3 separate regions of the Homo sapiens genome follow, and all the other regions are linked to region 2. The links come from fine-mapping of genetic effects on gene expression. A gene starts in region 2. Each other region holds a variant in brackets. All regions are shown on one strand. Distances are from middle to middle. Region 1 overlaps FENDRR (FOXF1 adjacent non-coding developmental regulatory RNA). Region 2 holds the start of FENDRR (FOXF1 adjacent non-coding developmental regulatory RNA). Region 3 has its middle 38 kb from the start of FENDRR.

The links.
Region 1: its variant is fine-mapped to the expression of FENDRR in lung (TOPMed, PIP above 0.99).
Region 3: its variant is fine-mapped to the expression of FENDRR in transverse colon (GTEx, PIP above 0.99).

Annotation. Positions count from the first base shown.
Region 1 is chr16:86,476,323-86,480,493 of GRCh38, forward strand. It overlaps FENDRR (FOXF1 adjacent non-coding developmental regulatory RNA), which reads right to left. Exons shown (of 4, transcript NR_033925.1): 2 at 2,383-2,434; 3 at 1,564-1,729; 4 at 1-877. Among named protein-coding and RNA genes, the nearest start is that of FENDRR, 30 kb to the right of the region's middle. The variant G/A (reference allele first, on the strand shown) is at 2,290.
Region 2 is chr16:86,507,081-86,511,251 of GRCh38, forward strand. It overlaps FENDRR (FOXF1 adjacent non-coding developmental regulatory RNA), which reads right to left and starts at 1,780. Exons shown (of 4, transcript NR_033925.1): 1 at 1,575-1,780. It overlaps FOXF1 (forkhead box F1), which reads left to right and starts at 3,447. Exons shown (of 2, transcript NM_001451.3): 1 at 3,447-4,171. The coding sequence starts at 3,490.
Region 3 is chr16:86,469,044-86,473,194 of GRCh38, forward strand. No RefSeq gene overlaps it. Among named protein-coding and RNA genes, the nearest start is that of FENDRR, 38 kb to the right of the region's middle. The variant A/AT (reference allele first, on the strand shown) is at 2,038.

The DNA.
Region 1 (4,171 bases), 31 kb before region 2:
CCGGCTCGCATGTGCGTTTGGCAAACGTTCGCATTGGTTTAGCATCAAGAAATGGCTTCCACGGGAGGATCTGCAATTTTATACTTTGCAAAAGACAGCTTTCTGTTGCATCCCCCATATTGTTAGGAACAAACTCTTTTCTTATTTGAAGAAAAGAACCTGCCCTTTTATGGGAAAACTAGTTCAGCTCTGTGTATATTATGCCACATGAAAGCAGTTTTGCCTTCATTTGTGGCTGCCTGATTACAAAGACAAGATCTTTAATTAAAATTGGTTTGGTTCTGTGTATTTCTTTCAAAGAAAACCATCGAAATAGCATTTGTGACTCATTACCTTCTTAACAGTGATGTTCTCCTTCTTGCCTCAGCATTGGGTCCATTTTGATGGAGATGCTGACCTCGAATGATCAGGGGACTGTGCCAACAAAGAGCTTTGTCTTCATCCTCAGGTTGGCTTTCTGGTGCTGTGACTTTGACCTGGGCAGTGAGTTTTTGTCTGAACAATTGTTTTGAGGGCATGGAAACCTCAGTCTTACCTGAGTCCAGGAGGGCATGGTTGAGGCCTCTGCAGGCCAGCTAGCATCCTCTGGGTGGGCCCCGGGCTGAAGCACCAGGGGATGCCCCCATTCACTTGGCTGGAAGGCCAGGGAAGGCCGGAGCTGATTTTCTCATTATCCCCATATGTCCAGGGTGGATTTGGAATCACATGGCTGGCAGGAACTCTTTCCAGCTGAGGAACAAGATTGCCTAGATCCGAAGGCTGTCTAACATGTTAGCAAAATTAGTGCTTAGCAATATTTTTGAGGATCTGTGGTTGGGTATTTTGTGTTTTTTCTTCTGCCAAAACAAGCTTGCTAACTTCTTTGCTTCTCTGTTTCCTGCAAAGAAAAGCAAGGGAGGGGGGACGCCAAATCATTTGCACATTTCACGTTGACGGAGCCCTGTGCTAGCACGATCGGAGGTCAGACGGGAAGCCAGGCTTCTCGGGCGGGGCTTGTAATAACAGAGTGACCCGGGCTCACTCACCCCACCCAGCACTTCCCACCTGATCCCAGCAGGAGCTGCTCTTAGCTGCTCTCCCTCCTCCTCTTCCATGAATCCAGAGCTTTCAAAAATTTGGCAGAGTAAATTGGAATCTTAGACTTTTCTAAGTGTGGGTTGTATTTTTCAGTTCTCCTTCCTCCCCACCTAAGCAAGACCAGCCATATCCCAATTCCTTAGGCAAGTCATGATGACAAGAGCTAAGCTTCAATGAGCACCTGCTGTGTACTGGGTCCAAGTGCGTTCTGCTCACTGATACCTTTAACCCTCATAATAACCTAGATCTGGATTGCTAAGATTGAGTCTTAGTTCTGCTGAGCAGTGTGACCTTGCACAAGTTACTTAACCTCTCTGTGACTCAGAAAGACACAGTGGAGAAAGTATGTGACTGACCTCAAAATGTTGTTTTAAGCAAATAAGGCTAAATATGCAATGCTCTTAAGAGTAGTTCTGGGTACATGATAAGCACCTCCGTCCCAGTGTTAGCTGTTACTGTCCCATTGTCCTGAAGCCAGGCGATTACCTAAGAGCACACAGTGCACTGCTGGCAGAGCTGGGCTTCGGGCTTTTGACGAGTAGGCTGCAGTGCCTTGGACAGAAGCAGCAGCTGCAAGATACCATCACTGTGTCGGGGTATGTGCAGAGAAGAGCTCCTTATGCAAGCATTCTTCAGTGGCTGCAGGCCATAGCTGCATGCAGGCAAACGCAATGCCAAGGCATGTGTGTGTGAAAGAAGGAAAATGTTCACCACCATCCTCTTGCCCCACCTTCTAAAAGAGAAAGGGTACTCCCTTTACTTGGCTGGTTCCTGGGCTGGAGTGTGGTGTGAGGACAAGGGAAGCAGGGTGGAGGCGATCTAGAAGATGGGACAGAGAGAGGCCACAGGATGTAACAGCCAGGGTGTGTGACCAGCCAAATGTCCATCAATGGAGCTTGGTTAAATAAATGGTAGTAGACTAAATATCACACAGCTGCCACCAAGATGGAGGAAGCTCTGTGGGGGCTGACAGGGAAGGAGCACCAAGGTATATTGTTAGGGGGAGAGCCAAACTGCAAAATGGTGTGTATGACGCACTAACTTTTGTGTAGGAGGAATAAGATATACACACTCTTTCCTTGCTATACTCGCAGACTTGGTTCCAGGACCCCTCAATATATCAAATCTGTGCATATTCTAGTCCTGCAGCCAGCCCTGTGGAACCCACGATACCAACAGTCAGCCCTCTGTGTGTGCAGGTTTCACATCCAC[G/A]AACATCGTATTTCCATCCTTGTTTGGTTGAAAAAAATTCACATATAAATGGATACGTGGACTCAAACCCGTGTTGAACCAGTTCATACCTACGTTGTTCAGGGTCCACTGTAGTTGCGTTTTCTTTTATGTGCATGAAGTAATCCTAGAAGAATAAAACTGGTTATCCAGGAAGGGTGCAGAGAGGAGGAGATGCTAGAAACTGAGCAAATGGGGCACAGAGATGGGAGCAAGCTCTCTCTACATGTGTGTCTGTGTACTGTATGTACATATATTGTATATTGTATATATATGCTGTATACATAATTTCATCCACATATACATTATTAATTAATATTAATAAAACATTAATATTTATTAATGTCATAATCAATATAGTATTATATATTTCTATTTATATTATATACTTGTATAATTATATATTATTATAATGTTATAATTAATACATTAAAATTGCACATTAATTAATAAAACATTAATATTTGTTAATGTTATAATTAATAAATATACATGTGTATGTATATTAACCCATGTGAATAGTTAAATGTGTATATACTTAATAACAGAGCTTGAAAATATCATAAAGCAAAATTTTATAGTAAAAAAGGAGAAACCAAGAAATCAACCATCATAATTGGAGATGTTAAAATCCTCTCAGTAGTTGATCGAAGTAGGCAAAAGAAATCAGTAAAAATATAAAAGATTGGAACAACACTAGCGACCACTTGACCTAATAGAACATATAGAATACTCACTCAGCAAGTGTAGAAAACTCACTCTTTGTGACTGTATGTGAAACATTCGTCAAGACAGACCATATGCTGGAACATAAAACAGTTGTAATACATTGCAAAAGACTAAATGTCCAGAATATGTTCCCCGACCACAATGGAATTAAGTTAGAAATCAACAAGAAAATATCTGGAAAAAATCCCGAGAGACTTGGAAATTAAGGAACACTCTTCCAAATAACCCATGGGTCACAGAAGAAACCGCAGAGGAGCGGTGGATCAAAGAGCACGGACACTCACGCCTCCAGCAATAAAAGACTGGCTCAGCTGAGCCTGTGTGTCCTTGGATGACGCAGAACACAGTGGCCCCATCAGTCCAGAGAACCCGGAGCTGCCATGCTGTCTCTTGCCGAGGCAGTGGCAGAGGTTCCTGGAGTTTTGAACTCCCCTCCCAGCACCCACTAGAAGCCCACCCTTCTGGGATTGCCAGCTGGAGGGAGCCTCATGCTGAGGTGGGCAGGGAAGGTGATCCTTCATCCTGGTCTGGGAATGATTTTGTGTGGTGAAAATAGAAGCAGCACTTTTATCCAAGGAGAGAGGCATAATCACCAAATGCACATGAAATTGCTTAAACTCTGGGAGCCGACAGCCCCCTTGGTTTAATTACACAGCGGGGCCGTATTCTGCTGAAACCATTACATTTTAGATCTTCTCTCTCACACACATCCAGGCGCGCACACACACACACACACACACACCCTGCCCAGCCTCCGGGGGCAGCCAGCAGGACTTCCCATCCCCACCCTCCCTCCCTCTCTGAGATGGGAGTATATATTTAGCCTTTTGCAAGGTGAGGATATTTTTGAATTAGATATTTGTTCACATAGTCCAATATGCCTAAGTCCACAGGGATAGAGTGTAAGTTTCTTCCCCTCCTGTCCCTTCTGCATACTACCCAGCTACCCAGATACAACCAGCGCCATCAATCTCTTGCAAATCTTTCTGAAAATCATTCCCACCACAAGCCCATCTATCCCTCCACAGCCCTTATTCCGGAAGGGATATGTGAATTTTTGTATCATCTGTTTGCAGTAAGTAGCCAACCACTTCTCTTCCCAGCAAACAAGCTGGCCTCCTTCAGGATAGCTCCC
Region 2 (4,171 bases):
GACCTCTCAGGGACATTGTAAGAGCTGAGAATGAAGTCTCTGAGCATGAAGGAAAGCCCTTCTTGCTACGGCTGTGGTTTTCCCCAGAATTCAGGGGGTCCCCTCCAAATTACAGAGCTGGGAGCTCATTCGCCTCCTCTCTCACGCCCCCACTTCTACACACACCCAGCAGTAGAGATGAGCAGTTGGGGAGAGCCTCCATCTTTGGCCTTCCTGAGACTCCCAGGCCTACTGGGCCGGCTCTTTCGCTGGGCTCCGTGACTGGCTGTTCTGTAAGGTCTGGTTTGCTATCAGAGCCGGTGAAAGGGCAGAAAGAAGGGTGGAAAGGAGGGAAAAATGGATCTCCGGGTTAGCCAACGATGGGACCTGCGGCTTCCCTTCCCCAACTGAAGAGGGCCCAGGAGTGAAGGAGTCTGCTGGGAAAGGGCTCCCCAACTTCATGCTCTAGGGACCCGCTCACTTTGAAGGCGCCCCATGAGTGGGGGAGGGGCGAGGGGAAGGGAGATGCTATTTCCACTTTCAGCGAGCCGCAGCGTGCGCCCTGCACCCCTAGCTGGCTTAAGAGCTGTGCAGCCTTCTCTGCTCACCTCTGCTAAGGGCCAGATGTGCTCTGGCAGTCGGCAGTAGCGACCCCTTCCTGGGAACAGAACTTTCCTCCGGAGGCCAGGGTCTCCTCATCTGCAACTGCCATTTGCCACACACACACACACAAAAGTTGGGAGAGAATGTGAGAATGCTTGTGTTCGTGGACGCGTGCGCACGTATGGAGCGGCGGTACCTATGATTATTTGCGCGTGGCGCCTGGCTATGCGTGGGCGAACGCGCAGTGGAGAACATGTGGGCGTGCATGAAGTGTGCACTTAAACCAAAGTGTGCCCTCCCCGTTGGGCAGGCCTGTGTGTTGGTCCAAGGGTTGGGAGCGCCTGAGCTGTGTGAGGGTCGCTGGGAAGGGTGTTTGAGGCCGTGGGCGGTGCGGAGCGTGTCTGTGTGCGCGGAGGCTGAGCTGGTTGTGTGAAGTGGTAGCGGGTCTGCCAGAGAGCGTTTACCTGCGTGAATGCACAACCACACACTACGGGTCACGTCCCACACTCATTCTTTCCCTAGGCGGGCCAGGCTGTCTGCACGCGGAGACCCAGAGAGGCCAGCGGAAGGGCAGCGCGGGAAGGCGGCTCTCTTCTCCCGCGAGCGCAGATCTGGCGGAGGAGGCGGCGACTGCCCGGCAGGCTGCGCCGGCGAGCCCCCCAGCTCCTCTCACCGACGTGCCAGGCGCCCCGAAGGCGACAGGCGTCTCCCGCCGAAAATGAAGGCGTCCGAGCCAGGAAGGTGGGGGCGGGTAGTTAGCGGGAGACAAGGAGTCCGGAGAAAACCGAGAGGCGGGTAGGCTTTGAACGCGCCGCGCCGCGGGCCGTGCTGCGAGCCCGGCACACGCCTCTCGCCCCAGCTCGCGCTGGGGCTTGGCCTCTAGGCTCTTCGCGATGACCCGCGAAAACACCCCTCGCCCCCCTCTTCTCAACTCGGAACCCTGGAGGGAGAGGCCGCGCCCGGCCAGCAGTCGCTGCGAGAGCAGCACTCACCTGGGTCTGTGCGCGCCGCGATGCGCCGGGGCTCCTGCGCTGTCCTGCGCTCCGCTCTCGGCACCACCTTTCGTGGCTCCACCGCCCCCAGCCCGCACCCGAGCGCTGAGGTGGCAAGGGCAGGTCTGCGTGCGAGCCCCCTGCGGGCTGGCAGCCAGGTGCGCGAGGGCCGCCCTTGCCGGCGCTCCCAGCCCGCGCTGTCTGCTCTCAGGAACCTGGCCTGGCGCGCAGTGTCAGAGGCCCCGCGGCGGCGGCAGGCCGAGCCCACAGGGGCATTAGGCCAACTCCCCCCTCCCGCCCTGCGCACGCGGAATTCTCTATTATTATTATTAAAGAATCCCCCAGAACTTGTTTACGTTAAACCCTGTAAACTTCCTGCCAGGGCCTTTGCCATCTCTCGGGAAATCGGAACCTGCGCTTTGAAAACGGGGCCGCGGGGCCAAATAGGCGGGTTTTCAGTGTGTGTTGGGGGTGGGGGAGGGCAACTGAACTACGTGTGAGTTCAGATCCGAGCGTGGCGTGTGTACGCGTGAGTGGGAGTGAGTGCGAACTTAAGCTCCTGTGGGCCTTAAGCTTCCGTGTCAACGAGTGCATTAGTGGGTGCGCACATGCCTGAGCGCCCTCTGCATATGAGTGTGCACACACGCATGGGTGTGTTTACACGTCTGTTTGCGTAATTTACCGGGTTTGCATGTGCATCAAGACATGTATGTGTGTGCTAATGTGTGGACAAGAGCGCGAGGGTGTGCGCGCACGGGTGAGTGACTGAGCACGCCGCTTATTCAGGGGCCTGTGCGGTCTGGGTCGCCTCTGGGCCAGCGGGTTCTCACTCGCCCCCGTCAGGCCCGCGGCGCCCGAGACAAAGCGGCCGCGACTCGTGCTGCGCTTTCGTTTTCCGCCTGCGCTCTGCCCCGGCGGCTGCCCGCCCGCTCGCAAGCTGCTGGGCGAGTCCGAAAAATCCCGGGAGCGGCGCAGTTCTTCCCGGGGCGGGGAGAGTGGGTAGGCGGTCCCTCGCGGGAACTTAGCCGGCCGGCCGCGAGGACCGGAGTCGAGCCGGCTGTGCCTGCGATGGTCACGACCGGGAGGCCGCCGCACTTGCGATTTGCTACAGGGCTGTGCGCGTCGGGGAAGGCCCCGGCCCAGGGAGCGTTTCCCGCCGCGCCGCCCGGGCGGGGAAGGCGGGGTCCAGCGCGCACCGGGGCTGAACCGCGGGCGGAGGGCGCATTAACACTTGCTCGCCAGGTTGGTGGAGGCGGGGCGGATTCTGCTGGCGGCCGCGGGGCGGCGAGAGTGGGGGCTCTTTAAGCGCCCACCAACGCGGGGGCCCGAGGGGGGCAGGGACGGAGGGAGGGAACTCCGGGAGGGTCTTAGGCCGACCCGCGAGACGCAGCCGAGCGGAGATGGAGTGAAGGCTGCCTCGCCCGGAATCTCGGAGCCGAGCGCCGCGGGCGGCGGGGACTCAGGGCTGCTCCCGGCTGGGGCGCACGGCCGTAAGACCTGGAGGTGGTGCCTCCCCCCAAAAAATACCGGCGGGGGTAGCTTCCTCACGGCCTTCGCCCGGGCTGCCCTCGGCCTCAGCTCGGCTCCTTTCCTTGTGGGAGGGCGAGAAAGAAAGAGGGAGGAGAGAGGTGGGGGAGGCGGGAGTTGGAGAGAGAGGGGCTCTGAGCCAACCGCCGGCGGATCCAGCAGCTCCTCGGGGAGGGCGGGCGGGAGCGCGGGGGCGGGCGCGCCGCGGCTCGCTCGGGAGAAGTGGCCGCCGATGACGGCAGAGGTGCAGCCAGCCCCGCGCGCGCAGCCCCCTCCCCTTCGCCCTCCTCCCCCCCGTCGTCCTCTTCCTCCTCCTCCTCCTCCTCCTCCCGGCCCGTCCGCGGCGCAGAGCAGCGGCGGCAGCGGCGGCGGCGGCAGCAGCCACCCGATGTCTTCGGCGCCCGAGAAGCAGCAGCCACCGCACGGCGGCGGCGGCGGCGGCGGCGGGGGAGGCGGCGCGGCCATGGACCCCGCGTCGTCCGGCCCGTCCAAGGCCAAGAAGACCAACGCCGGCATCCGGCGCCCGGAGAAGCCGCCCTATTCCTACATCGCGCTCATCGTCATGGCCATCCAGAGTTCACCCACCAAGCGCCTGACGCTGAGCGAGATCTACCAGTTCCTGCAGAGCCGCTTCCCCTTCTTCCGGGGCTCCTACCAGGGCTGGAAGAACTCCGTGCGCCACAACCTCTCGCTCAACGAGTGCTTCATCAAGCTACCCAAGGGCCTTGGGCGGCCCGGCAAGGGCCACTACTGGACCATCGACCCGGCCAGCGAGTTCATGTTCGAGGAGGGCTCCTTTCGGCGGCGGCCGCGCGGCTTCCGAAGGAAATGCCAGGCGCTCAAGCCCATGTACAGCATGATGAACGGGCTCGGCTTCAACCACCTCCCGGACACCTACGGCTTCCAGGGCTCGGCCGGCGGCCTCTCGTGCCCGCCCAACAGCCTGGCGCTGGAGGGCGGCCTGGGCATGATGAACGGCCACTTGCCGGGCAACGTGGACGGCATGGCCCTGCCCAGCCACTCGGTGCCCCACCTGCCTTCCAACGGCGGCCACTCGTACATGGGCGGCT
Region 3 (4,151 bases), 38 kb before region 2:
GTGCGGTGGCATGATCTTGGCTCACCACAACCCCTGTCTTCGAGGTTCAACTGATTCTCCTGCCTCAGCCTCCTGAGTAGCTGAGAGTAGCTGCCTGTAAATGCGTGCACCACCATGCCTGTTTTAGTAGAGAAGGGGTTTCGACATGTTGGCCAGGCTGGTCTTGAATGTGACACTTTTTAAAGATAACGTTAATACCAGAGAACGCTAATGAACAAAATATTTAAAAATATTAAAATTGTAAATAAAGACAGAATCTGACCCTGGCCTTGTAGAACCCTGCCTTGCTGGCCATCCTCTAATCCTGGCCCTGGTTTCAATAAAACTTTCTTCCTCATAACAGGCTAGCCAGTGGCAGCAAGCAGCAGTTTGCCGGTTTGGTTTTTTAAAATATTATTCTAAAGTATCATTTCTCAAGATTTTTGGTGCACAGTTAAATTTTGCAGCAAGTCCTCCCTGGTCCCACAATTCAGTGAACCTGCTCTGGCCTGAAATGTCCCACAGTGAGACGCTGGTAAGCCCGGCCGGACTAAATCACAGGTGCTGGGTATCCCAGCAGCCACAGGAGTCCTGCCGCTCAAGGCGGTTCCCGCGGGCTCTCTTCTCACTTGGTGAGACTGTATATTTGCAGAGAACATTCTCGACGCCATGGCTGCTGACTGGGCAGAGCCTTTGCCAGGGTATTTGCATCAAAGTCTTCTCAACTTTAAAGGTGTATGACATTTCTGAGACAAAATACAGCTCAGCTAATCATATTTTAATAGCTCTACCTTTACAAGCGGCCTGACTCGGAGTGTATACGGTAATATTTTAATTTCTCAGCTCTGATGAGCATCATTCCAACCAGGTATTCAGTTTCCCCATTTATAAATTTTGCTCCCAGATGTTGGATGCCAGAGAACTCTACATAACAGCTCTACCAATATAATATTTAATACTGGATGTCAGTTTTGGTGTTCCACTCAATTTCCTGGAAAGAGGTTGAAACTCCTCTGATTTAGGCAAAATATCCAATCAGTTGCATACTCCGAGGCCCGGCCCAGATTGCCATATAATACCACATAACTTGGGGCTCTCATTTCTGAAATGCAAATTTGGAGCAGATGTAGGAAAAGTTTGTCATTTATTTCCAAATGTAACAGTTATCAGGCCGAGTCACCGGGAGGGATAATTAGCAAGAGACCAAGTTCACAAGCCTGTCCCCCTAAACCAGGAGACTTGCTGGGAGACCTACCCCAGCCCCGGTGGGGAGAACAGCATGGGGGGTGTTGGGCTGGGGGTCTCAGATCAGCTACTGATGGAAGAGGCTACATTGGACCTGTAGGTCTGGAGCAGGTTTTGCATTTGACTTAGAATTTTTAAAATAATGGTTTTGGGACACAGGAAGGTGGTCAGCATGTAATCCTGCACTTCATTTTAAATATGAAGATCAGGCCAGGCGTGGTGGCTCGCGCCTGTAATCCCAGCATTTTGGGAGGATGAGGCGGGCGGATCACGTGAGGTTAGGAGTTTGAGACGAGCCTGCCCAAGATGGTGAAACCTCGTCTCTACTAAAAATACAAAAATTGGCGAGGTGTGATGGTGGGCACCTGTAATCCCAGCTATTCCGGAGGCTGAGGCAGGAGAATCGCTTGAGCCTGGGAGGCAGAGGTTGCAGTGAGCCAAGACTGTGCCACTGCAATCCAGCCTGGGTGACAAGAGCGAGACTCGGTCTCAAAAAAAAAAAAAAAAAAAAAAAAAACATGAAGTTTGGAGTATCTGCAGTCACAGTGTCACCCCAGGCTGACTAACTTCCCTCAGTCCAGCTCTCTCTGTATGATTTTGGGGGAGGCAGGTCACTCAGTTCTTTGAGACTCAGAGGAGCTTATTTTCTTGGCGATGCCTTCCTGGTGACCTTAATGCTTGTAGTCAGCTGAAGAAGAGCTGCCTGGGGTGCAAAAGCCACGAAAAACACCATGTTGTAGGTGGCCAGTGCCTCTAGGGAGCCAGACCAGCCTCCAGAGTGGGCCAGGGTGAGATATCCCAGGGTTGGGAGGT[A/AT]TTTTTCCGAGAAGTTACTTATCAACTAATTGGTACTTCCGTTTCCTCATCCCAAGGAGGAATGATTGGTTCCTCGCAGGATTCCCTGTGATGATATAAACAGGGTGGAGGAAACAATAAAGCAAAGTACATGGAGCTCCCGATGGGGTGGATTCCTGACATCCAGTACTGCATGCTGTTCATGGTCCAAACGTCACGGAGGCAAGATGACAAGTCCTTCAAAACAGGCCCTTCTAGGGGGACCGAATAATTTCCATCAGTGACTAGGAAGTTAAGAGGTCGTGCATCTAACCCCACCTCTCCTGGGACCTCACTGTGTGCCTCAGTTTCCCCTTCTGTCAAAAGAGAAGGTTGGGCATGGGAGCTTCAAAGTCCCTTTCAGCTCTCAGGAGACTTCCTTCCCTGCTGCCCTTGCTGGGGATGGAGGATGTAGACAAAGACCCCTTCCCATTTTCTTGTCAGGGGAAGAGGAATGTGAGTCCTTAGCATGTTGAGGCCCCAAGGAGAGCTTAAGGAGCCAGAGCTGCAATGGCATATGGAGGAAGTGTGTGGGTGGCTCCCAACTTTCCTGCCTCTTCCATTCTTGGTCTGGCCAAGTTCAGGAGCATCCCTCCTCTCGCCCTGCAAGGGCATCGAGTCACCCTCCCCTCCCTTCTCCCCTTGTCTCTTTCTTTCCTTCTTTCCAGATACCAAGCCGCTTGACCTCCACTGTAACGGCCTCAAGTCTCCCCATCGTCTGGGGGCTCTGCTGCTAATTGGGTCGTAAAAGATGATCCTACTGCATAGCTGTCTGCAAAGCGGGGCCCCCGTGACACAGGATCAATGAAATGCATAGCTGTCTGCAAAGCGGGGCCCCCGTGACACAGGATCAATGAAATGCAGACCACAGGGTGGGCTTACCTGCTGACACTCTGGGCAGAGCCAGGACTGCAGAAGTCAGAGGGTGACTGGATGCTCAGGATGGGAGAGGCAAAGACTGGGGGATGAATCATCCCTCCCTGGAGGCCTCCTCATGCCTCTGACCCCCCAGGCTTCTGTTAAAGCGGCCAAAGCCCTCCTCACGCACTCCAGTCAGAACATGGCCCCCTGGGGCTGCTTCGCAAAGGCCCACAGTCCCGCGAGACCCCGTCCAGAAAGAAGCCCCACGTCTGAGTGGCTCCACCTGGCAGTTCATTCATTCATTCACTCATTCGAGCATCACTCGTTTACCGAGTACCTCTGACAATTCTGGCACTGAGCTGCACCCTAGGAGTGCATGAATGGTGTGGCCAGGACCGTGGCTTTCCGTCTTGTCTGCTGTCACCTCCACATTAATAAAGCCCCGTGTTTAGTCGGGGGTGTGGCCACCCAGGCATGAAACTGCACTTCCTGCCTCCCTTGCAGCTAGCTGTGGCCATGTGATTGCACCCTGGTTAACAAAACTATGCAGGGTGTGGGGGGCCCTTCCTTCAAAAACAAACAAAAGAAACACAGTGGGCCCAAGCCCCTGGGTCCTTTCCTCTCAGTGGTCCTCTCTCCTGCTGGCTGGAATGCAGATGGGAGGGCTGAAGCTGAAGTGGCCAGTCTTGAGAAGGTGCCTGGGGACAGAGGACCCACATGGTAGAGCAACAGACAAAGAAGCCACTTCTCTGGACGGCTGGAGGGAAACGCATCTCTCCACCCTGGCCTGCCTTCCTCTAGACTTTAGTGTGAAAGAGAAAAACACAAAATCTACCTTCTTTAAGCTACTGTGACTTAGGGTTTTCCAGCTGAGGATAATTGAAACCTACACAGCAGGTCATGGTGCCACATCCTGGTGCAGGGCTGTTGGCAGCACAGAAAGCCCACTGGCCTGGTCTCAGGGGATTGGAGAGGCGTCCCGAGGGGTCTGTGTCTTGGCTGTGCCCTGTCAGGTGTGTTGGCCAAGGGAAGACGGGTAGGGAGGCATTTCAGGGCTGGAGGTGGGAAGAAGTTCAGTGTGTTTGGAGAAGCTCTGGACTCTTCAGGGTGGTGGGGACCCCTGCTTTGCATCTATAAAATACACCAGGCCTTAAAATATGTGACCTGTGATTCAAAGGGAGAGGCTACTGGCTGGAGTGCAGTGGCGCCATCTCTGCTCACTGCAACCTCTGCCT